Linked DNA regions of Homo sapiens: regions 1 and 2 are each linked to region 3. Evidence: fine-mapped expression QTL. A gene starts in region 3. Each other region holds a variant in brackets. All regions are shown on one strand. Distances are between the middles of the regions.

The links. PIP is the estimated chance that this variant, and not a neighbour inherited with it, causes the effect.
Region 1: its variant is the best candidate, but not a certain one, in a credible set for the expression of SYCP2L in left ventricle (GTEx, PIP 0.83).
Region 2: its variant is the best candidate, but not a certain one, in a credible set for the expression of SYCP2L in esophagus muscle (GTEx, PIP 0.87).

Annotation. Positions count from the first base shown.
Region 1 is chr6:10,918,600-10,928,800 of GRCh38, forward strand. SYCP2L (synaptonemal complex protein 2 like) reads left to right here. Exons shown (of 30, transcript NM_001040274.3): 15 at 5,897-6,042; 16 at 7,740-7,833; 17 at 8,641-8,768; 18 at 9,804-9,851. Among named protein-coding and RNA genes, the nearest start is that of SYCP2L, 37 kb to the left of the region's middle. The variant T/C (reference allele first, on the strand shown) is at 4,695.
Region 2 is chr6:10,933,629-10,943,829 of GRCh38, forward strand. It overlaps SYCP2L (synaptonemal complex protein 2 like), which reads left to right. Exons shown (of 30, transcript NM_001040274.3): 21 at 1,430-1,559; 22 at 8,831-8,901; 23 at 9,049-9,118. The region is part of intron 2 of LOC101928191 (a long non-coding RNA gene); the gene reads right to left. Among named protein-coding and RNA genes, the nearest start is that of SYCP2L, 52 kb to the left of the region's middle. The variant A/G (reference allele first, on the strand shown) is at 5,528.
Region 3 is chr6:10,881,174-10,891,374 of GRCh38, forward strand. SYCP2L (synaptonemal complex protein 2 like) reads left to right here and starts at 5,879. Exons shown (of 30, transcript NM_001040274.3): 1 at 5,879-5,962. The coding sequence starts at 5,954. GCM2 (glial cells missing transcription factor 2) reads right to left here and starts at 868. Exons shown (of 5, transcript NM_004752.4): 1 at 531-868. The coding sequence starts at 620. RefSeq lists a silencer at 763-1,057 and an enhancer at 5,046-5,814.

The DNA of each region.
Region 1 (10,201 bases), 37 kb after region 3:
GATCTCAGCTCACTGCAACCTCCGCCTCCTGGGTTCAAGTGATTCTCATGCCTCAGCCTCCCGAGTAGCTGGGATTACAGGCACGTGCCACCATACCCAGCTAATTTTTGTATTTTTAGTAGAGACGGGTTTCACCATGTTGGCCAGGATGGTCTCAATCTCCTGACCTCGTGATCCGCCCACCTTGGCCTCCCAAAGTGCTGGGATTACAGGCGTGAGCTACCATGCCCGGCTGACTTTCTTTCTTCCACTTGTTCGATTCTATTGCTGAGACTTTCCAGAGCATTTTGCATTTCTGTAAGTTGTCCATTGTTTCCTGAAATTTTGATTGTTTTTTATTTATGCCATCTATTTCATTGAATAGTTCTCCTTTCACTTCTTGTATGATTTTTTTATTTCCTTACATTGGGCTTCACCTTTCTCTGGTGCCTCCCTGATTAGCTTAATAACTAACCTCCTGAATTCTTTTTCAGGTACATCAGGGATTTCTTCTTGGTTTGGATCCATTGCTGGTGAGCTAGTATGATTTTTGGAGGGTGTTAAAGAACCTTATTTTGTCATAGTACTAGAGTTGGTTTTCTGGTTCTTTCTCATTTGGGTAGGCTCTGTCAGAGGGAAGGTCTGGGGCTGAAGGCTGTTGTTCAGATTCTTTTGTCCCATGGGGTGTGCCCTTGATGTAGTACTCTCCCTCTTTTCCTATGGTTGTGGCTTCCTGAGAGCCGAGCCGTAGGGACTATTATCTCTCTTCAGGATCTAGCCACCCAGCAAGTCTACTAGGCTCCGGGCTGGTACTGGGGGTTGTCTGTACAGAGTCCTGTGATGTGAACTGTCTATGGGTCTCTCAGCCATGGATACCAGCACCTGTTCTGATGGAGGTGGCAGTGGGGTGAAATGGACTCTGTGATGGTTCTTAACTTTGGTAGTTTAATGCTCTGTTTTTGTGCTGGTTGGCCTTCTGCCGGTAGGTGGTGATTTCCAGAGAGCATCAGCTATGGTAGTGTAGGGAGGAACAGGCGGTGGGTGGGGCCCTAGAACTCCCAAGAGTATATTCCCTTAGTCTTCAGTTACCAGGATAGGTAGGGAAGGATCATTGGGTGGGGGCAGGATTAGGAGTGTCTGAACTCAGACTCTCCTTGGGTGGGTCTTGCTGTGGCTGCTGTGGGGATATGGGTGAGGTTCCCAGGTCAATGGAGTTATGTTCCTAGGAGGATTATGGCTGTCTCTGCTGAGTCATGCAGGTTGTCAGGGAAATGGGGAAAAGTCAGCAGTCACAGGCCTCACCCAGCTCCCATGCAATCCAAAGGGCCGGTCTCACTCCCACGGTACCCCCCACCCTCAAAACCACCAAGTCTGTTTGCAGGCAATGGGTGAGCAAGAAAGCAGGGGATTTTAAAGGGGACTTGGCATGAATGGCATGTAAGGGAGAGAGTGAGGAAGTGTGGGGTCTTCATGACTTGCTTTGATGTCTTATCCATCAGGTGGTCTGGCTGGTGCCATCGTGGGCAGAACTAGGTTGTACATTGACTGTTGTCTCAAGGCAATCTCCTGGTGGGGAGAATCTCAGGGGGTGCCTGGTTTGGTTCAACGTTTGTTCCTTAGAATTTCTTTTTGTTTTGTTTGGTTTGGTTTGGTTTGGTTTTGAGACTCTCACTGTGTCACCCAGGCTGGAGTGCAGTGGCGTGATCTTGGCTCACTGCAACCTCTGCCTCCTGTGTTCAAACGATTCTCCTGCCTCAGCCTCCTGAGTAGCTGGGATTACAGGCCTATACCACCATACCCAGCTAATTTTTGTATTTTAGTAGAGATGGGGTTTTGCCATGTTGGCCAGGCTGGTCTCGAACTCCTGACCTCAAGTGATCCAACAGCCTCGCCCTCCCAAAGTGCTGAGATTACAGGCGTGAGACACCGTGCCTGGCCTCCTTAGAATTTCTAAGCAAACATATAGTTAGATGAGCTTGCAGCACAGAGAGTGCCTCATGGGAAGAAGGTAAATGTTATAATTGCGTTCCTTTTTTTATTTTCTTCAACTTTTATTTTAAGTTCATGGGTACATGTGCAGGATGTACAGGTTTGTTACATAGGTAAACCTACACAGGTTTGTTACAGGTTTGTTACATAGGTAACTTTTAAGTTAATGGGTACATGTGCGGGATGTACAGGTTTGTTACATACTCTCTGCAGGACAGAGAGTGCCTCATGGAAAGAAGGTAAATGTTATAATTGCGTTCCTTTTTTTTTTTCTTCAACTTTTAAGTTCATGGGTACATGTGCAGGATGTACAGGTTTGTTACATAGGTGCAGGATGTACAGGTTTGTTACATAGGTACATGTGCAGGATGTACAGGTTTGTTACATGTGCCATAGTGGTTTGCTGCACAGATCATCCCATCACCTAAGTGTTAAGCCCAGCATCCATTAGTTGTTCTTCCTGATGTTCTCCCCCAACATACCCAGGCCCCAGTATGTGTTCCCCGCAATGTGTCCATGTGTTCTCATCATTCAGCTCCCACTTATAAGTGAGAACATGCGGTGTTTGGTTTTCTGTTCCTGTGTTAGTTTGCTGTGGATGATGGCTTCAAGCTCCATCCATGTCCCTGCAAAGGACATGATCTCATTTTTTTTATGGCTGCATAGTATTCCAAGGTGTGTATGTACCACATTTTCTTTATCCAGTCTATCATTGATGGGAATTTAGATTGATTCCATGTCTTTGCTATTGTGAATAGTGCTGCAATGAACATAGGTGTGCATGTATTTTTATAATAGAATGATTTATATTCCTTTAGGCATATACCCAGTAATGGGATTGCTGGGTCAAATGGTATTTCTTTCTCTAGGTCTTTGAGGAATCACCACACTGCCTTCCACAATGGTTGAACTAATTTACGCTCCCACCAACAGTGTAAAGTCTTCCTTTTTCTCCGCAACCTTGCCAGCATCTGTTGTTTGACTTTTTAATAATAGCCATTCTGACTGGCATGAGATGGTATCTCATTGTGGTTTTGATTTGCATTTCTCTGATGATCAGTGATGTTGAGGTTTTTTTCATACGTTTGTTGGCTGCATGAATATCTTCTTTTGAGAAGTGTCTGTTTATGTCCTTTGACCACCTTTTTTTTTTTTTGAGATGGAGTCTCGCTCTGTCGCCCAGGCTGAAGTGCAGTGGCGCGATCTTGGCTCACTGCAAGCTCCGCCTCCTGGGTTCATGCCATTCTTCTGCCTCAGCCTCCCGAGTAGCTGGGACTACAGGCGCCCGCCACCACACCTGGCTAATTTTTTGTATTTTTTAGTAAAGACGGGGTTTCACCGTGTTAGCCAGGATGGTCTCGGTCTCCTGACCTCGTGATCTGCCCGCCTCGGCCTCCCAAAGTGCTGGATTACAGGCGTGAGCCAACATGCCTGGCCGACCACTTTTTAATGTTTTTTGTTTGTTTGTTTGTTTGTTTTTCATAATTGCATTCCTAAAGAGCTAAGTAAGAGGTGGGGGAAAAGGAAAAAGGTAAAAATAATTCATTATTTTCTTTAAGAATGTGGGTGCTCAGTTAACAGCTTTCAGGAGTCAACTTGCCAAAGTTAATATTTTGTAACTTCATGAATAGATCACGTTTCTGTGGTTCATGGTTTTTAATTTACAAAGTGCCTCACAATTTCTACAGGAAGTAGGTATTACTCTTTCCATTCTTATAGCCAAAGAAACTGATGATTGTCTAGTAAATTCCGTAAGTAAGACTTTTGTTCTGTATCATAGCCCTTCTGGTTATGGAGTTGGCAGTGTAGTATGTTGGAAGCTTGATGTAGCCCTCATGGTATTTCTTCTGACCCTTGTATATGTTTGCATTGATCCCACGGCCCAGTTAGCTAGTTACTTTTTTTTTTTTTTTTTTGAGACGAAGTCTCACTCTGTCGTCCAGGCTGGAGTGCAGTGGTGCGATCTCAGCTCACTGCAAGCTCCTCCTCCCGGGTTCACGCCATTCTTCTGCCTCAACATCCCGAGTAGCTGGGACTACAGGCGCCCGCCACCATGCCGGGCTAACAATTAGCTAGTTACTTTTTAAGATATTTAAGATTACTTTTGTTGCATGGTTTTATAGACTTTCCCTGGAGTGATGAGTAAAATGTCCGGCAAGATTAGTATTTTGGGGAGATCATGGAGGCTTACTCTAGACCAGCACTGTCCTATAGAAATATGAGGTGAGCCAGATACTTAATTTAAAATTTTCTAGTAGTCACATTAAAGAAAAAAGTAGATTAATTTGAGTAGATTAAAAAAGTAGATTAAGTAGATTAATTTTATTAATATATTTTGTTTAACCCAGAATATTATATCCTGGAATAATAATATCCAGAATATTATTTTAACATGTAATCAATATTTTAAAATTATTAATGATACATTTTACATTCTTCTTTTGTGTACTGAGTCTTCATAATCCGATGCGTATTTTGTGCTTACAGAGCATCTCGGTTAGTACTAGGCATGCTTTCAGTACTCTGATGAGTTGGACCTCACAGATTTAGACTCATGTATGTTTCCCTCTTTTTTCCCCTTGTTTCCCGTCTCATTAATTTGTGGCCATTAGCTTTGCCTGTTCTTTCCTGGACTTTGCTGCCTTTTCTATTCTCCTTCTTCCGACTTACCTTGTACTTAATGTGGTGTATTCTTGGCCTCTTTGTGAATTTGGTCTAAGCCATTT[T/C]CTCTTGTAAGCCCGATTACAATTTGTCAGGAAAGGGCTGGTGACCTGGGAGGAGGCTGCAAGGAGGCTATTGTCTGAAACACACACTTTTTTTTTTTTTTTTTTTTTTTGAGATGGAGGCTTGCTCTGTCACCCAGGCTGGAGTGCAGTGGCATGATCTCGGCTCATTGCAACCTCCGCTTAGCGGGTTCAAGCAATTCTCCTGCCTCAGCCTCCTGAGTAGCTGGGATTACAGGGGTGCACCACCACGCCCAGCTAATTTTTGTATTTTCAGTAGAGATAGGGTTTCAGTGTGTTGGTCAGGCTGGTTTCAAACTCCTGACTTCGTGATGCACCCGCCTCGGCCTCCCAAAGTGCTGGGAGACGCAGACTTCTTTCTTTTTCTTTTTCTTTTTTTTTTTTTTTCTTGAGACGGAGTCTAGCTCTCTCCTCCAGGCTGGAGTGCAGTGGCACGATCTCGGCTCACTGCAAGCTCCGCCTCCTGGGTTCACGCCATTCTCCCGCCTCAGCCTCCCGAATAGCTGGGACTAGAAGCACCCACCACCACGCCCGGCTAATTTTTTTGTATTTTTAGCAGAGACAGGGTTTCACCGTGTTAGCCAGGATGGTCTCCATCTCCTGACCTCGTGATCCACCCGCCTCGGCCTCCCAAAGTGCTGGGATTACAGGCGTGAGCCACCACGCCTGGCCTACAGAATTTTTTCTAAGGTGTTTCCGTCTCTTCTTCAAGTGGAGTCCATTGAAATGGTGGTAGATTATTCCATTTTGCACATTGGGGACAGTGAGTTTTATTTTCAATTTTAGAAATAAGTAGAATTTCAGAGAGAGAGAGAGTGAATATTGTGCATAGTATATTTGGGAATAAAATACCTGTTGCAGATGATAGCCTTGTATAAACAAAATGCTCTTAAAAAAACTGAATTGCAGAAGACAAAACTATCTTCATTTCTTTGCTGCTAAGGTAAGTTACTTCCAATGTTTGCAAGATCAACCACTTAATTGTGTTGTATGTGTATATGTGTAAATACATGTGCATCTAAAGGACAATTTCAAAGTAATGTTATTTAATATGATTTCTTTTCAACTTCTTAACACAGAAAAATCTGGACAAATACCCTAGCGTAGTTATTTAAAATGATAAAATTTTAAAATAAAACATTGAAGTATGTTGCTATGCATTGATATTCCATATTTTCTCTTAGAAACGGAGAAGATAAAGATATTTATCATTTACCTGAAGAAGCCCATGATTATCAGCTACAAAGAAGTCATGAAAATAGAAATCCATTTTGATTTGCAGTTCAACATATCACAAGTTTCCATTCAAGCTTTAGGAGAAGACAAACAGGTGGCAGGTTTCATTCTTTTGGATTATTTAAAAATGTTTTAGTATGTTTCATGTCTATTAAATGTCCTTGTTGGGTTTTGATGTGAATATTTGATAAAGCAGAAAACCTGGTCTTTCAAATGCCATGTAAAAAAGAGTTGAGAGTTCTGGATTTAAATCCCAGTTTTCCCTTTTGATGGGTCATTGTCTTGAGGTAGGATAGAAAGCCTCTTTGTTCCTTGAAATGCTTTACTCTACTAACTGTGAACAGCTGAAAGGTTTTCTAGGATAATATCACCCTGTTACCACCTTCTTCCTGGAGTCCTGAGGACACTGGCATTTCTGTCTCTCTCAGCTCCCCCTGGACCTAGGGGGAGTGTATTAGTCTGTTCTCACGCTGCTAATAAAGACATACCAGAGACTGGGTAATTTATAAAGGAAAGAGGTTTAATGGACTCACAGTTCAACATGGCTGGGGAGGCTTCACAATCATGGTAGAAGGCAAAGGAGGAGCAAAGTCACATCTTACATGGCGGCAGGCAAGAGAGTAGGGGAACTCCCCTTTATAAAACCATCAGATCTTGTGAGACTTACTGTCAGAACAGCATGGGAAAGACCCATCCCCATGTTTCAGTTACCTCCCATGGGGTCTCTCCCATGACATGTGGGAATTACGGGAGCTACAATTCAAGATGAGATTTGGGTGGGGACACAGCCAGACTGTATCAGGGAGTCATTAGGAATAAAGTTTCTGAGGGACTTTTTCCACAGTTGTACCTGTTGGTCTTATCTTGTGGAAATGGTCTGTACTTCTCTAGATTGCTGTGGTCTCCAACTCTCTCTGTTTCCTACTTATTGACAGAAACAGGAAACCTTTCTGTATCACAGATGGTAGACAGGGCAAAGAAATTTGTGACAAAAGGCAAAAAATACTGTGGTAATGGCCCATAGAAAGTTGAATTAAGAGCTCAGAGACCAGATAAGGAAGTCTTGGGCTGGTTTCCTTTTGGTTTGAGTTGTATATGAAGGTGTTTATATGTAGCAAAGTGCTCTGAAAATAGTTTCTAAAAACTCACCTTATTTTAATGACATGGTCTTTTTACAAAAAGGCCATTTCATGGATGAGGATGAGAAATAAAGGGGAAATCAGTCACTTGGTTAAAAAACACCTCCTCCATCAAATTACATATGTTCTGAAGACAAGTTTGCCTTAACTCACAAAAACATCGAAATCATATGTCTTTCCAGTTTCACAAAATGAATAATAACGTTTTGAGGGGAGAATGAGGATTTTCCTGTGATAAAGCTGTAGTTCCTAGAATAGGAGGCCCCTATTCTAGGGAAAGGGGTTGGACTGAGGACCCTATAGTTGGGAACTCACTACAGACTCATCCTGAAAGAGACTCAGTGCCTGAGAGAAGCAGCGGTTAGACGTTACCCAATGGGGTAAGACCTGGGCCAGAGACAGGAGAGGCTGGGAAGATACCAGGAAAGAGTGCTTGGAGCAGGGGAATGGCTAGCCCGAGCTGGTCCTGTAGGGAGGTGGGGCCTGGAGAAGCCAGAAACAGTGGAATGATCCTTCAGGAGAGGACAAACTGGTAAACTTGACTAACTTCTGATTTATCAGTGTGTTTTGTTCTAAGCTTTACGTTTTCCTTAAATTTTTTTTTTTTTAAAGATGACTACATTTCAAAGTTGACCTTTGTCTTGCATTTCAGATGTTGCCTGACCAGACGAAAATCTCCTCAGAACTTTTTAGTAAGTCTGATAAAGAAGACAGGGAGAGTCCCAGTGGCCTTGAAAGAGAAACAGGTATATTGGGAAATAACAAAATTCTGACCCTGAGTTTTCTGTAAAAGCGATGAAACCTTAGTTGGAAGAGGTCACTGGAAACCTGTGGTCATATGAGTGATGCGTGTCTGATGGCACTTCTGGAGGAAGAAGAGTTGCTGATAGCCTTGAATTGTTTTCTACACCTGTTAAGGTCTCTCTTGTGGGTCAACTGGAAATGACAAAGAAGAAATGATGGGGTTTGGGGGAGGCAGGACATGGGGGTAAGGAAGGTCTTGTCTACCCACAAAGTCGGCCCTGCACTAGACCGTGTTTCTCTTTTGAGTTATGCCCCAAGGCTGTTTTCCCAAGTGCCCATAGATTTCTTTTCTTTTTTTTTTTTTTTTGAGATGGAGTCTTGCTCTGTTGCCCAGGCTGGAGTGCAGTGGCACGATCTCGGCTCACTGCAACCTCTGCCTCCTAGGTTTAAGCAACTCTTCTGCCTCAGCCTCCCAAGTAGCTGGTACTACAGGTGTGTGCCACCATGCCCAGCTAATTTTTTGTATTTTCAGCAGAGACGGGATTTTGCCATGTTGGCCAGGCTGGTCTCAAACTCCTGGCCTCAAGTGATCTGCCCATTTTGGCCTCCCAAAGTCCTGGGATTACAGACGTGAGCCAACATGCCAGCCTGTACCCATAGCTTTCTGATTGGAGGTTTGAGGCAGGACCTAATTACCAGGTCTTACCAAAGGATGGAGAGGTACCAGAGGGGACATCCCATGAAGACCACTGGTGAGTATGTCAGCGTGTGCACGGTTATTATATTAGTCTTTTTCTTAATTTGTATAGAGCAGGCAGAAGAATCCACTAACATGGTGGAGTTTATGAGTGCTGAAGATGACCGCTGCCTAATAACTCTCCACTTAAATGACCAATCTGAGCCACCTGTTATTGGGGAACCTGCCTCTGATAGTCACGTAGGTTCTTTTCTATTTTCCCTAAGCATCGGCCAGGTTGAGAAATAAAGGGACGGACTACAAAAGAGAGAAATTTTAAAGTTGGGCATCCAGGGGAGACATCACATGTCGGTAGGTTCCGTGATGCCCCCTGAGCTGTAAAACCAGCAAGTTTTTATTAGGGATTTTCAAAAGGGGAGGGAGTGTACGAATAGGGTGTGGGTCACAGAGATCACGTACTTCACAAGGTAATAGAATATCACAAGGCAAATGGAGGCAGGGCGAGATCACAGGACCACAGGACCGGGGCGAAATTAAAATTGCTAATGAAGTTTCGGGCACCATTGTCATCAATAACATCGTATCAGGAGACAGGGTTTGAGAGCAACCGGTCTGACCAAAATTTATTAGGCGAGAATTTCCTCGCCCTAATAAGCCTGGGAGCGCTATGGGAGACTGGGGCTTATTTTATCCCTACAGTCTCGACCATAGAAGATGGTCACACCCAAGGGGGCCATTTTAGAGGCCCACCCTCAGGGGCGCATTCTCTTTCTCAGGTATGTTCCTTGCTGAGAAAAAGAATTCAGCGATATTTCTCCCATTTGCTTTTGAAGGAAGAGAAATATGGCTCTGTTCCACCCGGCTCACCGGCGGTCAGAGTTTAAGGTTATCTCTCTTATTCCCTGAACATTGCTGTTATCCTGTTCTTTTTTCAAGGTGCCCAGATTTCATATTGTTCAAACACACATGCTCTACAATTTGTGCAGTTAACGCAATCATCACAGGGTCCTGAGGTGACATACATCCTCCTCAGCTGACAGGATTAAGAGATTAAAGACAGGCATAGGAAATCACAAGGGTATTGTGATACCCTTGTGATACAAGGGTATCACAAGGCATAGGAAATCACAAGGGGAAGTGATAAGTGTCCATGAAATCTTCACAATTTATGTTCAGAGATTGAGTAAAGACAGGCATAAGAAATTATAAAAGTATTAATTTGGGGAACTAATAAATGTCTATGAAATCTTCACAATCCACGTTCTTCTGCCATAGCTTCAGCCGGTCCCTCCGTTCGGGGTCCCTGACTTCCCGCAACAACCTGTGAGTACAGGGAGTGGGGCTCAAGTTTCTTATCTGTCTCCAGTGGGACTGTGACAGGTGGAAGCCACCTTTCCTGGTTCATGGACCATTTTCTCCTGGCCAACCATCTGTCAATTTAAAAAAATTTTTTTAAGACAAGGCCTTGTTCTGTCATCATAGCTCACCGTGGCCTCAGCCTCCCAGGCTCATGTGATCCTCCCGCTTCAGCTTCTTGAGTAGCAAGAACTACAGGTGGTGCCACCACGCCTGGCTTATTTTAAAATTTTTTATAGAGATGGAGTCTCGCTCCATTCCCCAGGCTGGTCTCAAACTCCTGGACTTAAGAGATTCTCCCATTTTGGCTTCCCAAA
Region 2 (10,201 bases), 52 kb after region 3:
AGGGGTCTTACGATCTTAGTATTTATTTTTTTGTGGCTACGTTTATTAGATGTGTCTTTGAAAAATTAAAAAGAGAAGCTCAATAGCATTTATACCAAACTTTGAATGAAAGCACAAGGAGAAATTTCCTATTCAGTAAAAATGCAGTCAGAATTTTATTTACTGCAGTAAAATCTCAATTAACTCAATTAATCCTCAAGAAGGAAGGATTTAGTTAATGTAATTTTCCTGCCAATTAAAATTTAAATCTAGTATCCCCTTACACTAATTCTAATTGTTAGATATTTTATTTTCTTAGCTTAGTAAGCTGAGTAAAGGAAATATAATTGAATCATTGATCATTTAGGATTTTCACTAGGATCATTAGGCAGATCAGTTCTCATGCTGTAATAGAATAGAGGCAGGTAGAGCAGGAATGTTTAAATGAGTAGTCGCTTTGCTTTGACCCTAGGACTTTAGACAGGCACATTCCCTCTGTCTCTGTCTCGTGCACTCTGTCTCTCTCTTAACTAAATCTCTGAAATAAGCTTGCTTTATTCTCCCTCCCCTTTGGTTTTTATTAATGTATTTAATGAAAGTACTATTATTTGCAAATGTCTTTAAGGTAATTTTAAATTAATGAAAATAGTGATGTTGTAGTTCCTAAGGAAAACATTTCTGTCTCAATATATACTTTAAAAATAATTCAAAGAGTCAAGGTTTGAATCTATTGTCCATTTGAGGGGAGCAGTACTTGAATGCAGAGCCATTAGAAGACAACTGGAAATTGGCTGGGTGCGGTGGCACATGCCTGTAATCCCAGCGCTTTGGGAGGCCAAGGCGGGCAGATCACCTGAGGTCAGGAGTTTGAGGCCAGCCTGGCCAACATGGCGAAACCCCATCTCTAATAAAATACAAAAAAATTAGCTGGGTGTGGTGGCGCGTGCCTATGATTCCAGCTACTCATGAGGCTGAGGCACGAGAATTGCTTGAACTCAGTAGGTGGAGGTTGCAGTGAGTTGAGATCACACTACTGCACTCTAGCCTGGGTGACAGAGTGATTCCATCTTAAAAAAGATAACTGGAAATTGGAAATTCAAGAATCTGTAAGATTCTTTCCAACTGTGAAAACCAGAGTCTGGGATCAGGTGCCAGCCTTTCTCTTTTTACCTAACAGAATTTCTGATTTCCAAGGATTCATGAGATTTTCATTTCTGTATCTCGAGAAAGAGTAAATGACCTAATTCAGATTCAGTACCATGGCATTAAGCTAATATCCACCCCTCAACTAAAAACACACAGAAATTCTTAGTAGAATTAGCATTTATTTTCAAATGGAGTAAATCTAATACTTAAGCTTCTTAAAGTAATATTGAAAATGTCTTACAATATTTTGATAACTTGTTTTTAATTATGAATGTTAACACTTAAAAAAGATACTATATTTTAGGCTAAGCTTCTATCACCATCAGAGAAAGAAATACCCGAGCAAAATAACACCACATCTCCAAAGACTTCTGAACAAAAATTCCAAGATAGTTTTGCTTTTTTGACTGCTGAAGATTCTGCCCAGAAAACAGGTACATGATTTTCTGTTGACTTACATAGGAAAAAATTTGTATTTGGGAAAGGTAGTTTGAAGTAAACAAAACATTTTTATTTTAATATCTATTAAAGAAAATATGAAGATAACATTGTTCTTTACCTTAATGTCTCTTATTAGCAAATTAACAGAGGATATGATGTTTTAATTTTGCTGTGCCATTTGAGATCATCTTGTACCCAAGAATTGCTGGTCTCTTCTTTTTTTAAAGAAGCAAGACATCTCAAATGATGACCTGTAGCAGGGGTTGGTAAACATTTTTTGTAAGGTTCCAATAGTAAATATTTTTTGCTTTTTGATCCATATGGTTTCTTTTTCTTTTCTTTTTTTTTGACACGGAGTCTTGCTCTGTCACCCAGGCTGGAGTGCAATGGTGTGCTCCTGGCTCACTGCAACCTCCGCCTCCCAGGTTCAAGCGATTCTCCTGCCTCAGCCTCCCATGCCCGGCTAATTTTTGTATTTTTAGTTGAGACGGAGTTTCACCATGTTGGCCAGTCCAGTCTGGAACTCCTGACCTCAAGTGATCTGCCCACCTTGCCTTCCCAAAGTGCTGGGACTACAGGCGTGAGCCACCATGGCCAGACTTGATCCATATGGTTTCTGTTGTGACTATTCAACTCTGCAGTTGTTGCACAAAATTGGCCATGGATAAGATGTAAGCCAATGGGGTGGCTGTCTTTCCATAAAACTTTATTTATAAAATCAGGTAGCAGACTGGATCTGACTTGGGGGCCAGAGTTTGCCAACCCTTAACCTATAGGCTTTTTCTTAACCCTCACTGTATTTTATTTTGACTGTGTTTTTAAGTTTGTTAATAATATGATTTTATTATTATTAATAACAATATTAATATTGTTCATTATTCTGCAGTTCACATTGCCAGGCATACAATGATATTTAGTAAGTACTTCAATAACAATCTGTTAGTGTAGCTGCCACTGGAAGAAAATAAGTAGGGAAAATCAAAAAGTAGAGAGGAAAATGTAACATTAAAGAATAAAAGGGGTCAGGCGCAGTGGCTCCCTCCTGTAATCCCAGCACTTTGGGAGGCTGAGGCGGGCAGATCACCTGAGGTCAGGAGTTCGAGACCAGCCTGACCAATATAGTGAAACCTCGTCTCTACTAAAAATACAAAAACTAGCCAGGCATGGTGGCAGGCACCTGTAGTCCCAGCTACTCGGGAGGCTGAGACAGGAGAATTGCTTGAACCGGGAGGCAGAGGTTGCAGTGAGCCACTGCACTCCAGCCTGGGCGACAGAGTGAGACTCTATCTCACAAAGAAAAAAAAATAGATTAAAAGGAAGGAAGAGAGCAAGATAGGGAAGAAAGGAACAAAGTTACTACAAAAGAGTAACAATCAACAAAATGGCAATACTAAGTTTTTACCTATCAATAATTACTTTAAATGGATTAAATTCTCCAATCAAAAGACACAGAGTGGTTGAATGGATAGAAAAAAGTGAGATTCAGCAATCTGCTGCTTACAGGGGACTCACTGTACCTTAAGGACAGATATAAACTGAAAGTGAAGGGTCGGAAAAAGATATTCCATGCAAATGGCAATCAAAAGAGAGCAGGGATGTGGTTATACCTACATCAGGCAAAATAGACTTTCTGTCAAAATTTGTCACAAGAGACAAAGACTAGATGATGATAAAAGGGTTAATTCATCAACAGGAAATAGCAATTGTAAATATATATATGCACCCAACATTACAGCACCTAAATGTATAAAGCAAATATTAATAGACCTGAAGAGAGAAATAGCAATACAATAAAAGAGTTCTTTAATTACCCCACCTTCAATAGTCGATAGATTATCCAGATAGAAAATCAATAAGGAAACAGTGGCTTGAATAATACTGTAGACCAGATGAATCTAACTAACATATACAGAACATTCCATCTAACAGCAGTGGAACACTTATTCTTCTCCAGTGTACAGTGCGCATGGGACATTCTCCAGAATTGATCATATGTTGGGCTACAAAATACATCTTAACAAATTTGAAAAGATTGAGATAATCTCAGATGTCTTTTCTGATCACAGCAGTATGAAACTAGAAATAATAGCAGGAGGAAGATTGGAAAATTCACAAATACATGGAAATTAAACAACACACTCCCGAATAACCAATGGATCAAATAAATTAAAAGGGAAATTAAAAAATCTTGAGATAAATGAAAATGGAAACATACCAAAATTTACAGGATGCAGCAAGAGCAGTGTTAAAAGGGGAGTTTATTAGCAATAAATACCTACCTTAAGAAAAAAGGAAAATCCCAAGTAACTTCACCCCTCAAGAAACTGAAAAAAGAAGAAACTAAACCCAAAGTCAGCTTAACGAAGAAAATAACAAATATTAAGGCATAAATAAATGAAGTAGGCACTAGAAAGACAATAGAAATGTTCAATGAAACTAAGAGTTTGTGTTTGGAAAGAATGAAATTGACAGACCTTTAGCTAGACTAACCAAGAGAAAGAGAGGACTCAAAAAAAACTGTTAATGAAAAAGGAGACACTACAACTGATACCACAGAACTACAAAGGATCATAAGCCATTACAACAAACAAATTATACACCAACAAATTGGATAACCTAGAAGAAATGGGTGAGTTTCTAGAAACATGCGACCTACCAAGACTGAATATAAAGAAATAGAAAAGCTGAACAGACCCATAATGAGTAAGGAGATCAAATCAGTAATCAAACCTCCCAACGGAGAGTAGCCCAGGGCCAGACGGTTTCACTGGTGAACTCTACCAAGTATTTAAAGAAAAATTAATGCCAATCCTTTTCAAACTCTTCCAAAAAACTGAGGTGGACAGAACACTTCCAAACCCATTTTATGAGGCCAGCATTACCCTCTTGTCAAAGCCAGATAAGAATGCTACAAGAAAAGAAAATTACAGGCCAATGTCTCTGATGAACGTATATGTAAAAACCCTCAAAAATACTAGCAAAACTTACTAAATAGCACATTAAAAGGACTATACACCATGTTAAAGTAGGATTTATCCCTGAGATTCAAGGAAGTTTCCATATATGCAAATCAATAAATGTGATAAACCACATTAAGAGAATGAAGGTTAAATTCATAGAATCATTTCAATAGATGCAAAAAAAGCATTTGACAAAATTTAACATCCTTTCATAATGACTTTCAACAAATTAAGTACATATAGAATGCACCTCAATATTAAAAAGGCCATATATGACAAGCCCAGAGCTAGCATTCCACTCAATGGTGAAAAGCTGAAAGCTTTTCCTCTAAGATCAGGAATACGACAAAGGTGTCTACTCTTGCCACTTCTGTTTAACATAGTACTGGAAGTCCTACCCAGTTCTATCCAGGCAAGAAAAAGAAATAAAAGACATCCAAATAGGAAGATGTTAAATTGTTTTTGTTTAAAGATGACATGATTTTACATATATCAAACTGTAAAGGCTTCACCAAAAAACTGTTAGAACTAATAAATGAATTCAGTAAAGTTGCAGGATACAAAATCAACATACAAAAATCAGTTGTGGGGTTTGCTTCTGGGTTTCAACAAAACAAAACAAAAATCAGTTGCATTTCTAGACACTAACAGTAAACTGTCTAAGAAAGAAATCAAGAAAATCTCAGCCAAGCATGGTGGCTCATGCCTGTAATCCCAGCACTTTGGGACGCCAAGGCCGGAGGATTACGAGGTCAGGAGATCGAGACCATCCCAGCTAACACAGTGAAACCCCATCTCTACTAAAAATACAACATATTAGCTAGGCATGGTGGCACACTCCTGTAGTCCCAGCTACTCAGGAGGCTGACGCGGGAGAATTGCTTGAATCCAGGAGGTGCAGGTTGCAGTGAGCTGAGATCACGCCACTGCATTTCAGCCTGGGTGACACAACGAGACTCCATCTCAAAAAAAAAAAGAAAATTTCATTGATAATAGCTTAC[A/G]AAAAACACATAAAAATAACCAAGGAGGTGAAAGGTCATAATCTGAAAACTATAAGACATTGATGAAATTAATTGAAGACACAAATAAATGGAAGAATATCCTATGTACATGGATTGGAAGAATTGTTAAAATGTCCTTATTATCCAAAGCAATATACAGATTCAATTCAACTGCTATCAAATTTCTACTGGCATTTTTCACAGAAATAGAAAAAACTATCCTAAAATTTATATGGAACCACAAAAGATCCTAAATAGCCAAAGCAATCTTGAGAAAGAGGAATAAAGCTGGAGGCATCACACTTTCTGATTTCAAAGTGTATTCAAAAACTATAGTAATCAAAACAGTATAGTACTGCCATAGAGACAGGCACATAGGCCAAGATAACATTATGGGCCCAGACATAAACCTACACATATATATGGCCACTTAATCTTTGAAAAGGGCACCAAGAATACACAATGAGGAAAGGAAAGCGTCTTCAATAAATGTTTTGGGAAAACTGGTTATCCACATACTAAACAATGAAATTGGGCCTTTGTTTTATACCATATACAAAAATCAACTCAAAATAGGTTAAGACTTTAAGATCTAAAACTGTACAAGACAAAAATAGGGAAACAGCTCTTTGACATTGGTCTTAGCAATGATTTCTTGCATACAACCCTAATAGCACAATAAACTTTTGGGACTATGTCATACTAAAAATCTTGTGCACAGCAAAGAAAGCAATCAATCAAATGGAAAGACAACCTAAAGAATGGGAGAAAATATTGCAAATCATATATCTGATAATAGGTTAGGGGTTAATATTCAAAATAACTTCCACAACTCAAAAGCAAGACAACACATAACCTAATTAAAAATGGGTAAAGAAGCTGAATAGACATTTTTCCAAAAAAGAAGCACAAATGGCTAATGGGTATATGTACTCAACATCACTGATCATTAGAGAAATGCAAATCAAAACCATAATGTGATATCTCACACCTGTCCAGATAGCTATTATCGAAAAGACAGGAGATAACAAGTGTTGGCAAGGGTATGGAGAGAAGGGAACAATTGTACGCTGTTGGTGAGAATGTAAACTGATGCAACTATTGTGGAAAACAGTATGGTGTTTTCTCAAAAAAATTAGAATTGTATAGAATCCATCAATCCCACTTCCATGTATATATCCAAAGCAGATAAAATCAGCATCTTGAAGAGAGATCTGCACTCCCATGTTTATTGCAGCATTATTCACAATAGCCAGGATATGGAATCAGCCTAAGCACTGGTCAGTGGATGAATGAATATAGAAAATGTGGTATATATTAATAATGGAATACTATTCAGCCTCAAAAAAGAAGGAAATCAGGCCATATGCAACAACATGGATAAACCTGGAGGACATTATAGTAAGTGAAATAAGCTAGTCACTAAAGGACAAATACTATATAATCTCACATATATACGGAATGTAAAAAAGTCAAACTCATAGAAACAGAGAATGGAACAGTGGTTGCCAGGTGCTAGGAGGTGGGGGGAAAGAGGAGATGGTCCTCGAAGGATATAAACTTTCAGGCATAACATGAACAAGTTCTGGGGATGTAATATACAGCACAGGTAGTGATGGATGTGTTCATCGATTTGAAAGTGATAATCATTACACCGTATATATGTATATCAAATCATCAAAAAAGAGTAAGAGGCAATAAGGGAGGGGTTTCTAAGGGAGAGAAGAATCACAAGATTGAGGTGGAAGAATCCCTGCCCGTGTTATTTGAGGCCAGATGGGCAGCTCCTTAAGGTGCCGATCTAGTTGAAGTAACTGGCTGTTAATCTTAACTACAGATGTACAAACCTAATAAGAATTCATCTTTGACAAACCTGACAAAAACAAGAAATGGGGAAAGGATTCCCTATTTAATAAGTGGTGCTGGGAAAATCGTCTAGCCGTATGTAGAAAGCTGAAACTGGATCCCTTCCTTACACCTTAAACAAACATTAATTCAAGATGGATTAAAGACTTAAATGTTAGACTTAAAACCATAAAAACCCTAGAAGAAAACCTCAGCAATACCATTCAGGACACAGGCATGGGCAAGGACTTCGTGTCTAAAACACCAAAAGCAATGGCAACAAAAGCCAAAATTGACAAATGGGATCTAATTAAACTAAAGAGCTTCTGCACAGCAAAAGAAACCACCATCAGAGTGAACAGGCAACCTACAGAATGGGAGAAAATTTTTGCCATCTACTCATCTGACAAAGGGCTAATATCCAGAATCTACAAAGAACTCAAACAAATTTACAAGAAAAAAACAACCCCATCCAAAAGTGGGCAAAGGATATGAACAGACACTTCTCAAAAGAAGACATTTATGCAGCCAACAGACACATGAAAAAATGCTCACCATCACTGGCCATCAGAGAAATGCAAATCAAAACCGCAATGAGATACCATCTCACACCAGTTAGAATGGCGATCATTAAAAAGTCAGGAAACAACAGATGCTGGAGAGGATGTGGAGAAATAGGCACACTTTTCTTTTACACTGTTGGTGGGAGTGTAAACTAGTTCAACCATTGTGGAAGTCAGTGTGGTGATTCCTCAGGGATCTAGAACTAGAAATACCATTTGACCCAGCCATCCCATTACTGGGTATATACCCAAAGGATTATAAAACATGCTGCTATAAAGACACATGCACAGGTATATTTATTGTGGCACTATTCACAATAGCAAAGACTTGGAACCAACCCAAATGTCCAACAACGATAGACTGGATTAAGAAAATGTGGCACATATACACCATGGAATACTATGCAGCCATAAAAAATGATGATTTCATGTCCTTTGTAGGGACATGGATGAAGCTGGAAACCATCATTCTCAGCAAACTCGCAAGGATGAAAAACACCACATGTTCTCACTCATAGGTGGGAATTGAACAATGAGAACACATGGACACAGGAAAGGGAACATCACACACTGGGGCCTGTTGTGGGGTGGGGGGAGGGGGGAGGGATAGCATTAAGAGATATATCTAATGTTAAATGACGAGTTAATGGGTGCAGCACACCAACATGGCACATGTATACATACGTAACCTGCACGTTGTGCACATGTACCCTAAAACTTAAAAGTATAATAAAAAAGAATTCGTGTCCCGAAAGACACAGTCAGTAGATTTTTGTTTCACTTAGAACTGTGTTCCTTTTTTTTGATGATGAGATTTAATATCTAGAATGATAGTGAATTCTTATTGCTTTGTTACTTGGCGTGTATTCACTTGAAACTTCTCTCTAATGCTCAGAGCTTCAAGATCCTCACTCACTGAGTGAGCTCTCTTCCTTGAAGCACTCAGAAGATGAAGAAAAACCTAAGGTACTATTTAATTGTTGGTTATTCATCTGATTTTCCAGAATTAATATCATATTTGCATAACACATTGGCTATTCCTTCTGACGAGTACACCACTTGTTTCTTGCTTTGCCATAAAGGACGTAATTTGTGGTCTGTTTTGTTTTTAAGATTGTGAACCAAGAATCACTAACAGAAAGTACTAGCTTGAAACATAAGCTGAGAAACTTGGAAGACAAAGGTAAGAGAATAGTACTTTTTTTTTTTTTTTTGCAGAATAAAATGAAATTAATCTGATTTTGGCAGACTGGGCTGTTACTCAGATTGCAGATCAAGTCACTTTGCACAGTGACTATTGCCAGGCCGTGGAGGGAGCAGTGTGAGCTGCTTACTAGTTCTAAATGTTCATGAAGGTTAGGAGGAAAAATGGGGGGCTCCATTCAGGAACCAGGACCTCTTGTGCCAAGGAAGGTATAGCCTGGGACCTGAATCCCACCAGCCAGTCACACCTTCTCTCCAGCCTCAGAGGAGGGCACAGTGGCGGTACTTTGCTAAGGGTCTCATCCAGAGCTGATTTCATTCTCAAGCATGTAGGTCACTTGTGGTTTATAAGAAATGTTCTAAAACATTGTGTGGTCAAATTATTAAAACTTCTGAGTTCATTTACTCATGTTAACAGTGGTATGAAGATTTCCAGTCTGGTTCACAATGTTGTATCTAATATAATGTAATGAGTTAATATAATACTTTTCTACTGTTTATGATGTTTCTTGACTGCATTTTTTTCTCTACTTTTAAAATTACGTATCGAAAGGATTCAACTAGTTATAAATATGTGTAGGATATTTAGAATATTAATGCAACAAATATCTGCAAACCACCATCCTGTTTTAGGAATATAACATTACTATTGCTTTCAAAATCCTGGTATGCTTTACCTGAAACCCATCCCACCCCCTCCCCTTAATTTTATGTCTGAGTCTCTGCTTTTTTGTTCATTCGTGCGTTGTGAGAAATACCATACATTCAGAAGAGATAGATGTGTACAGTTTAAAGAATGACTATAAAGTGAACATCTGTGTAACCACAGCTCAAACTGGGAACTAGAAAATTGCCATTGGCTTAGAATCCTTCCATACCAGATTATTACTTATTAATTTCTTTCATCCCTCATAGAGGTAATGACTTATGACTTTTGTAAACATCCTTCAGTTACTTCTTTTTATAATTTTGCTTTCTCCATATGTATCCCTAAATAATATACAGTTTAGTTTTATCTGATTCTAAATGTAAACAAATGACATTATACTGTATACATTATATG
Region 3 (10,201 bases):
TTGAGATGGAGTTTTGCTCTTGTTGCCCAGGCTGGAGTTCAATGGCGTGATCTTGGCTCACCGCAACCTCTGCCTCTCGGGTTCAAGCGATTCTCCTGCCTCAGCCTCCCGAGTAGCTGCGACTTTAGGCATGCGCCACCACGCTGGGCTGATTTTGTATTTTTGGTAGAGACGGGGTTTCTCCATGTTGGTCAGGCTGGTCTTGAACTCCCGACCTCAGATGATCCACCCGCCTCAGCCTCCCAAAGTGCTGGGATTACAGGTATGAACCACAGCGCCCGGCCAAGAAGACACATTTCTAAACCCAACTCAGCCTTTTGTAGAGTCCAGTTTTCTTTCTACACTTGAGAGGGCCTCAGAAACCCAGAAATTTTGCGGGTATGTGTGTGTGTGTGTGTGTGTGTGTGTGTGTGTGTGTGTGTGTGTGTGTGTGTATGGTCCGTCCGCAGACTCTTCAAGAACTCGAATGCCATTCTCCCTCCTTCGGATGGACAGCGCCCCGCGTGCCCGCACACACCCGGTTCACTTACCTGAGGCATCTGCGGATCGTTGATGTCCCAGCTGAGCTGCATCCCGTAGGAGCACACGCCGACCGCTTCCTGCACCGCGGCCGCCGGCATCTGCCCAACTCGCTCGCGCTTTCCGCCCAGGGTTCTGAAAAATAGAAGAAAAAAGGACAGGTGCGCCAGGTGGGTTTTTTTTCTTCTCTTTAAAGAAGAAAGTGGGGTGTGTGAAGGGGAGGTGCAGAGAGAGAGAAAGAGAGAGAGGCTGTTTAGATATCTGGAAGCTGGGGACAATGGTTATGGACCCGGGCGGGGCCTTGTCCTTGGCCGCGGTGCTGAACGTTCTCCACCCGAACGGCAGCATCGACCTCTGGCAGCTGCCCCCTCCTTTATAAAGATATACCTCCGGGGGGCTCCGCCCTGTCTCGCCTACCTCGCTAGCGCCCACGCTCCAGGGGCCGGTCGCCCCCTCCACCACAGTCCCAGGAACGGAGGTGGAGGTTAAACTCAGCCCTGGAAGCAAATGGAAACTGCAGCCAGAGGGTGGGGGTGGAGAGGGTAAGTAGGAATGTATCCTTTAAGTTTAAAACCTTATTATTTTCTTCTTTTCTTTTCTTCTTTTTTGTCTCACTCTGTTGCCCAGGCTAGAGTGCAGTGGCGCCATCTCAGCTAACTGCAACCTCTGCCTCCCAGGTTCAAGCGATTCTCCTGCCTCAACCTCCCGAGTAGCTGGGAATACAGGTCCGTGCCACCACCCTGGCTAATTTTTGTATTTTTAGTAGAGACAGGTTTTAGCCATGCGAAACCCTGACCAAGCTGGTCTTGAACTCCTGACGATCTGCCCGCCTGGGCCTCCCAAAGTGCTGGGATTACAGGCGTGAGCAACCGCGACCGGCCTATTTTTTTTCTTTTTTCTAAACGCGTCCAGCTTCCCTGATTTCGGAAAGGGGCTTAGATGGAGGCTTTCCAGCAAAGTCCCCTGAGAGCCAACACTCAATTCCAGGAGAGCATGGGAACCGTGCGTGGGCCCCTCTGCCGTCCGCGTGCGCCCTAGCCTGAATAACCGCGCCCACGCCTCCTAGTTAGGGGTCAGCCCATTTTGGGCCTCCACTGCCGGCTCTTCCCCTAACTATTGTGAGTGTCTCGCAGTCTTGGCTCTGCTGTTTGGGACGTGCCAGGGTGCGCCAAGCCTCCGCGTATGCTCGCGAGCCCAGGCGCCTTCACGCTCCCGGGGACTTCGGAGGGACCTGGCCCTGCAGGAACGGAGTCCTACAAAGTGAACCTGGAGGAGGTGGGGGGCGGAAATGAGCCCGGGGTAGGTGGGAGCCTGGGGTAGGTGGGAGCCTGGGGAAGGAGGGAAAGGGGAGAGGGGAAAAGTCCCAAAGAACTCGCTTTCTCCACTGCTTTGGCTCCCTCTGGGTCTCAGCTTCCTTATCTGTTTATCTGTTAAATAAGAGGTTGTGGTTCGGCGAGCTCTCAGTTGCCACCCACCCGAACACAAATCTTTTTTTTTTTTTTTTTTTTTGAGACGGAGTCTCACTCTGTCTTCCCGGCTGGAGTGCAGTGGCGCAATCTCGGCTCACTGCAACCTCCGCCTCCCAGGTTCAAACGATTCTCCTGCCTCAGCCTCCCGAGTAGCTGGAACTACAGGCGCGCCATCGCGACCAGCTAATTTTGTATTGTTAGTAGAGACAGGGTTTTACCAAGTTGGCCAGGATGGTCTCGATTTTTTGACTTCGTGATCCTCCTGTCTCGGCCTCTCAAAGTGCTGGGATTAAAGGCGTGAGCCACCGCGCCCGGCCCACAACTCTTAAAAAAAAACTTCACTGATATAGTCTTGGAAATATCACGACGAAATTGAATTTACTCCATTACAGTCTTGGGAGGCTTTGGAGGACTAGAGAATCGCGGTGGTGCGGAGGTGCGCAGGACAATGTGGGTTCTCCGGGGCTGGGACGAAACCTTCATCATCTGAGCAGCCGACTCGCCCAGGGCTACTCCGGCACATGGAGACCCTCAGTATATATATATATAAAAAAAACAAAAAACAAAAAACAAACAAAACAAAACAAAACCGATTGAAGTGACTAAAGTCACTCTTTGACTACCCCAAGGCCGGATTCTTGGCGGCCAGGGGAAAGGGCTTCTGGAATTTATTGCCCGCGTCCTTGTTTTGCAGCTGCACGCTTCCATTCCCAGCCCCAGCCAGAGAAGAGGAGCCAACTCCTCACGGCAGATCCCTTGATAGAGGAGGATGAACCGAATCCATGACCCTCCAGACCCGGGAAGCGACGCACCCTAGGCCTTGGCACCGCAAAGCCCGTGCTGAGCGCACGGACGGGTGCTGCCCGGGACTCGGCCAGGAGGGCGCCCATGCCAACGCCTCTTGCAGGATTAGTGCCTTCGGTTGGCAAAAGGCGGATAAAGGAAGAGCGAAACCACATCAGGAAGCTAAGGGTGGTCCACGCTCCCTGTCCTTTTACTTCCCGCGCCAAAGGCACAGTGAGGCTTGCTTAGAAAAGTCCATCCCGCGATTGGGCGCAGTGGCTCATGCCTGTAATCCCAGCACTTTGGGAGGCCGAGACGGGAGGATCGCTTGAGCCCAGGAGTGCAAGACCAGACTGGGCAACATGGCGAAACCCTGTCTCTTCGAAAAAAAAAAAAAAAAAAAAAGCCGGGCATGGTGGCGTGTGCCTGTAGTCCCAGCTACTTGGGAGGCTGAGGCGGGAGGATCGCTTGAATCCAGGAGGCAGTGGTTGCAGTAACCTGAGATAGCGCCGAGCCTGGGCGACAGAACGAGACCCTGTCTCAAAAAAAAAAAAAAAAAAAAGGAAGGAAAGAAAGACAGAAAGAAAGAGAGAGAGAGAGAGGAAGGAAGCAAGGAAGGAGAAAGAAAAGAAAAAGAAAAAAAAAAGAAAAGGAAAGAAGAAAGAAAAAGTATCCCAGTCGGTCAGAGAAGCCTGCCAGTGGCAGCGGACCAGCGAACTCTGTTGGGAAGAAAGGCCAACTTCGAGCAGTTCCTCGCGATTTTTTCCTCCTTTATCTTCTAGCTGGGGTCCTCCTCCCAGTCAAAGCCGAAGGGTCCTAGCAGAAGAAAGTGATTTGTTCATTCCCAGCCTCCTTTCTCCCGAAGTTCTCCCCTCCTAAAAGGTCCTGTCAGTCAAGGTTTCTGATTAAAATCACTCTCAAATGGTCGCCACTGAGGTCTAGCTGGGAACGAAGAGATCTGTCTACTCTTCACCCACGAGTTTCATTCACAGATTTTTCATCTTATTAACTGTCTGCCAAAGGTCCCCGAAACTCCTGTTGATTCAGTTGCTTTTCGTGTTGTTTTGTCTTCCAAAATTGAATGAAAATTTATTGATTATCCATTTTAATTATAGTATTTCATTAAATGTTGTAGTCTAAGATAACTTATCCTTTCAAATGTTCTAAAAATAACTTTAAAATGGTGATTTAAAGTTACCTCTGAAAATGCATAGAAATTAATTTTTGGTCTTATTGCAGTGCTAGAATAGTTCTTGTCTCTGTGCTTTTGGAATGTTCCTAGAGAGACCTGACCCGTCAAAAACATAAATAAATAAAACTTTTTTATGTAAAAGGCAAATCAATTAATTTCTAAAGGGATTCTGGTATCCAAAGAAATGTCATAGAGCCTCTACTATATTTAGTTTGAGAAGAATTAGAGTATGCATTTCAAGTTGCCATAAATTATATTAAGACAAAACATGTTAGTAAAAGAAGCTAATCAAAGTAAAAAAAAAACCAGATAAAAGGTATTTTGCCTATTCTGTTATTTTTAATTTCTCTTAAAGATTTGAATGCATTGCACCATAGACTTTGGAAGGACATGTTTTCCCCCAAAGCCTGAAAATAATAGATGATTAAGTTTTCTATCTAATATTATGAAAACTCTAATTTTTAAATATTCTCTTAAAATTCATTTAAACTGTAGTATTTTGTTTATTGCTTCTTATTATTCATTGTTTCTTTCTTGCCCTGGTATTATATTTGTATTGACTCACAATAGCTTATACTCACAGCTGTTCCTGTCTTGATTACTAGTTTAATATTACAAAAGTCCATTCATTGAAAAGGAAAAAAACTTGCGTTTGAATTTCCTTGGTTTAGATTAAAATAGGTAAATTAATGTAAGAATGTTTACATTATACTTTCCAGGAAATTGATATGACAGGCTTTGACATAAACATTGTTTTGAACGGACTAGAAATGTGTGCAAGTCCTGGGCTAACAGGGGTTCTGGTTTTGTTATGTTTTGCTTTGGTGTAGACAAATATCTTCCGTACATATTATGACTTGAAATACTCACAGGTCTAGTTATAATACAAGTTGATTTTTACACAAAGGATGTTTGGATTGGAGGGGTCTTTTTTTTGTTTTTTGTGGAAAACTCTAGTCCAATTTAATTTTGCCACCGTGTTCACACAACTGGCCACCTATCCGAATCAGCCTAGCCATTGGTACGCATACTTGTCAGGTTAAAGGAAATAGGCAAACAAAGAAACAAAAAAACAAAAACAAAAACAAAACTATTTGCTTTGATTAAAAAAAAAAATTCCCCTTCCTCCCCACCACGGTACTTAAAAAACAACCACCAAACACACTTTGTGTGTGTGTGAAATCAGGAATGTATTAATAATATCGGGTACAAGTCTGGTTACCATAGGAAAGGGTTCGGCTTCTGTCTGCACACATCAATGGACCAAAAACTGCTCCTCTGGCTGTTTTTTTTTTGAGACGGAGTCTCACTCTGTCCCCCAGGCTGGAGTGCAGTGGCGAGATCTCCGCTCACTGCAACCTCCGCCTCCCGGGTTCAAGTGATTCTCCTGCCTCAGCCTCCCCAACAGCTAGGATTACAGGCACGTGCACCGCGCCCGGCTAATTTTTTGTATTTTTAGTAGAGACAAGGTTTCACCATGTTGACCAGACTGGTCTTGAACTCCTGACCTCAAGTGATCCACCAGCCTCGGCCACCCAAAGTGCTGGGATTACAGGCGTGAGCCACCGCGCCTGGCCGCCCCTCTGGCTTTTTAAGGCGGGGCAAAAACTTGGAACAGCTACCACAAAGCGAACGCCTATCTGTTTGGAATTTCGCAAATAAGGAACGTTTAAATGACGTAGTTCACATCCTTTGAGTGCTGGCTTTCTCTTAAAGGGTGAGTGCGTGCGCCCAGGTGGTTTGGCCTGTGTGCGCTAGTTACTTGCACGCGCTTCTTGAGTCTCAAAACACAGAGCTCTAGTAAACTTCAGGGGGCGGATTCGTCAATTACAGTTGCGGAAGAAGACTCGACTCGAAGAGCGGTCCGCCACCAGGGCTCTTTCGGCAGCGCCCCCAGCGGGCGGGGCTCTTGGGCGGGGAAGCAGGAGAGGGCCGACCGAGCGCAACAAAGCTGAGCGGCGCGTCGCTTCAGGAACGAAGAAGCCTCGTTATGCAAGCGGTGAGTGACCCCCGAAGGGCCCGGACCTTCTGTCCACAGTGCTAGGGCGCGCGAGGGCGCGGGGTCCCTGGGGCTCAGGTTCTGCCGCCTTGAGGTGTTCGCTCAGAGACCGGGTGCTGGGCATAGTCCCCCGCCACCTCCTTGGGTTTGCTCGGAGTGTATTGGCAGCCTGCGGGGAGACCAGGCAGAATAGAAACCTCGGATCCCTAGCTAAATAGCGCTCAGGGAAAGGGGAACCGGAGAATTCGTGTTCGGAAAGCAATGAGATAGTTCTTTTCTAGTTGCTTTGCGTATTTTCCTAGCCGGTTTTCCAGCCCTCTTTCCACCTTGCTGCGTAGAAAGTGCAGAAGTGTTAAGCAACCCCAAGTGCTGGGACTTCATTTAACCGAACGACAAAGGACAGCCCCTAAGATAAAGCTACAATTATTACTTATCAATAAATAATAAAAAAAAACACATGAAGTTTGAGCCCACCCAGGGACGCCAAAAACAACAAACAAAAACCACCTGGGGCGTGTTTCTAACATTCTTCTGCCTGGGTTCCTGGTGGTAGAAATTCTGATGTAATTGGTCTACGGTGGGCCGGTAGTTTGTTAGTTTGTTAGTGAGGACGCCAGGTGATTCTGATAGCCAGGGGTAACTGCTTGCCTAGATCCAGGAACTCACTCTTGTTCTCCATAAAATCCATCTGTCATCTGGCGCCATCTTCCCAGCCATGGGGAAACAGATTTGGGACAGAAACCTTTCTAACATCAAGCTACGCTTAAATTCAGAGCACTTAAGCATAACCTCCTCACCCTCTCCATCCCTGTTACATTGAAAGCTGCCATTCACTGAGCCATTTTTATGTGCCCAGGCACTATGCTAAGAACATTACAGACATTCTGTCAGTCAGTCCTCACTCCAATCCTTCCATATAGGTGTTACCATCTTTTTTTTTTTTTTTTTTTTTTTTTTTTTTTTTTTTTTTTTTTTTTTTGAGACGGAGTCTCATTCTGTCGCCCAGGCTGGAGTGCAGTGGCGTGATCTTGGCTCACTGCAACCTCTGCCTCCCGGGTTCAAGCGATTCTCCTACCTCAGCCTCCCGAGTAGCTGAGACTACAGGCGCGCGCCACCACGCCAGGGTAATTTTTGTATTTCTAGTAGAGACGGGGTTTCACCATGTTGGCCAGGATGGTCTCTGTCTCTTGACCTCATGATCTGCCCGCTTCGGCCTCCCAAAGTGCTGGGATTACAGGCGTGAGCCACAGCGCCCGGCTATCATCATGTTTTTTAAATGAGGAGACTGAATCTCAGAGAATCTAACGATCTTTTCTGCCTAAACCATCCCACTTTCTGATTTTCCTGTCAGGTTCCTACCCACAAAAGCTGCCACATGATCTTCACAGAAGGGGGATACCTTTCTGTGTACTAGAGTGGCTCCAGAAATTCCAGAAACAGGAAGCATTTCTTTGGAATTTGCAAAGTACTGACCACCAAGGCCAGAGAAGGTTGAAAGGAGGTAGAAATAAAAATAAGCAGAGCATCTCTGCATACGAATTGAACTGAAGGAGAGATAGGGCCGTGTCTATAGAGAAAAGAGGTAAAGAAGCTTAACATAAAGGCTCCCGGGAATATTTTCTTTGGGATGGGAAGTATTTCCCACTAATTCAGAATTTGTTGACAAAACTTAGAAATTATAGATACGTAGCATAGTGTTTATTTGATGTCAGTTTATGCTATGAATTAACACCCTTTTTTTTTTGATACGGAGTCTCACTCTGTCACCCAGGCTGGAGCGCAGTGGCTGGATCTCGGCTCACTGCAACCTCCACCTCCTGGGTTCGAGTGATTCTCCTTCCTCAGCCTCACGAGTAGCTGGGTCTACAGTCACGTGCCACTGCGCCCAGCTAATTTTTGTATTTTTTAGTAGAGACGGGTTTCACCATATTGGACAGGCTGGTCTCGAACTCCTGACCTCATGATATGCCCGCCTTGGCCTCCCAAAGTGCTGGGATTACAGGCGTGAGCCACTGCGCCTGGCCTAACACCCAATTTTAATTGTAGCTTTAGCTGTTCCTCCTATCTCACTTTTGCCTCTACTCAATTATCCACTAACACAATGGTTCTTTTTCTTTGCCTTTATCATTTATTTTTAATTGACACATATATTAATTGACACATAGTAATTGCACATGTTAATTGGGTGTAGTGTGATATTTCCATATGTGTATACAGTGTGTAATGATCAAATCAGGGTAATTATGCATATCCATCACCTCAAATATTTATTTCTTTGTGTTGGGAATGTTCAAAATCTACTCGTATAGCTATTTGAAAATATACAATAAGTTGTACATTATAGTCACCTTGCAGTACTATCTTACTCTAGAACTTACTCCTTCCAGCTAGCTGTAATTTTGTGTTCATTAACTAACCTCTGCCTATCTCACTTCCTCTTTTCTAGTGACCACTATTCTCTCTACTTCTATGAGATCAGCCTTTTTTTTTTTTTTTTTTTTTGAGATGGAGTTTCACTCTTGCTTCCCCAGCTGGAGTGCAATAGTGCAACCTTAGCTCATTGCAACCTCCGCGTCCCGGGTTCAAGCGATTCTCTTGCTTCAGCCTCCCCCGTAGCTGGGATTACAGGCATGCGCCACCCTGCCCGGATAATTTTCTATTTTTAGTAGAGACAGGGTTTTGTCATGTTGGCCAGGCTGGTCTCCAACTCCTGACCTCAGGTGATCCACCCACCTCGGCCACCCAAAGTGCTGGGATTACAGGCATGAGCCACCGCACCCGGCCGAGATCAGCTTTTTTAGCCTCTACATGTGATCAAGAACATGCAGTGTGTCTGTCTGTGCCCCGCTTATTTCATTTAGCATAATGTCCTTCAGGCTCATGCATGTTACCATGAATGACAGGATTTTGTTCTTTTTTCTGGCTGAAAAGTATTCCACTGTGTGAATATACCACATTTTCTTTATCCATTCATCCACTGATGGACACTTAAGTTGATTCCATATCTTGGCTATTATGAATAGCGCTGCAGTAAACATGGGAGTGCAGATATGCCTTTGACATACTGATTTCTTTTCTTTTGGATATATCTCCAGGAGTGGAATTGCTGGATTTATGATAGTTTTTTGAGGAACCTCCATACTGTTTTCCATATTGTCTATACTAATTTACATTCCTACCAACAGTGTACAAGAGTTCCTCTTTTTCCATATCCTTGCCAGCATTTGTTGTTTTTTGTCTTGATAATGGCCATTCTAACTGGGGTAAGATAATATCTCATTTTGGTTTTGATTTGCATTTTCCAATGATTAGTGATGTTGAGTATTTTTTCATATACCTGTTGGTCATTTGTATGTCTTCTTTGGAGAGATGTCTATTTAGCTTATTTACCCATTTTTAATTGGATTGGTTATTTTGCTGTTGAGGTGTTTGAGTTCCCTGTATATTCTAGATATTAATGGCTTGTTGGATGCATAGTTTGCAAATATATTCTCCCATTCTGCTGGTTGTCTCTTCACTCTATTATTTCCCTTTCTGTAAGAAGCTTTTTGGTCTGTATAATTTCATTTGTCTATTTTTGCTTTCATTGCCTGTGATTTTGAGGTTTTCTCCATAAAATCTTTGCCCAGACCAATGTCCTAAAGTGTTTCCCCTATATTTTATTCTAGTAGTTTGGGATCTTAAGTGTAAGCTTTTAGTTTATTTTGAGTTGATTTTTGTATATGGTGAGACATGGGATCTGGTTTCATTCTTCCACATATAAATATCCAGTTTTCCCAGCACCAGTTATTGAAGAGACTGTCTTTTCCCCATGAATGTTCTTGACACCTTTGTCAAAAATCAGTTGGCTATAAAAAAGTAGATTTATTTTGGGTTTATCTATTCTGTTCCATTGGTCTACATATGTGTCTGTTTTTATGCCAGTACCATGCTGTTTTGTTCCTATAACTTTGTAGTATATTTTGAAGTCAGGTACTATGATGCCTTAAAGACACTTTTATTTAACTTTATTTTACAAGCTCTCATTCTGAAAATGGTTTATTAGTTCAAAGCCTTTTTACTTCTACTTTATAATCATCATTATAGAGTTTGTTTATTTTGTGTGATTATTTATTCAAATGATGTTTGCTTTGCTTCTTCTGATAGTTTGTACTGTATTTGTCTTAGACCATGCTAAAGAAGGTTGGATAAAGTTTTTCTCTTTTTTCTAAGTACTATTTTACTTAGACCTATAATATG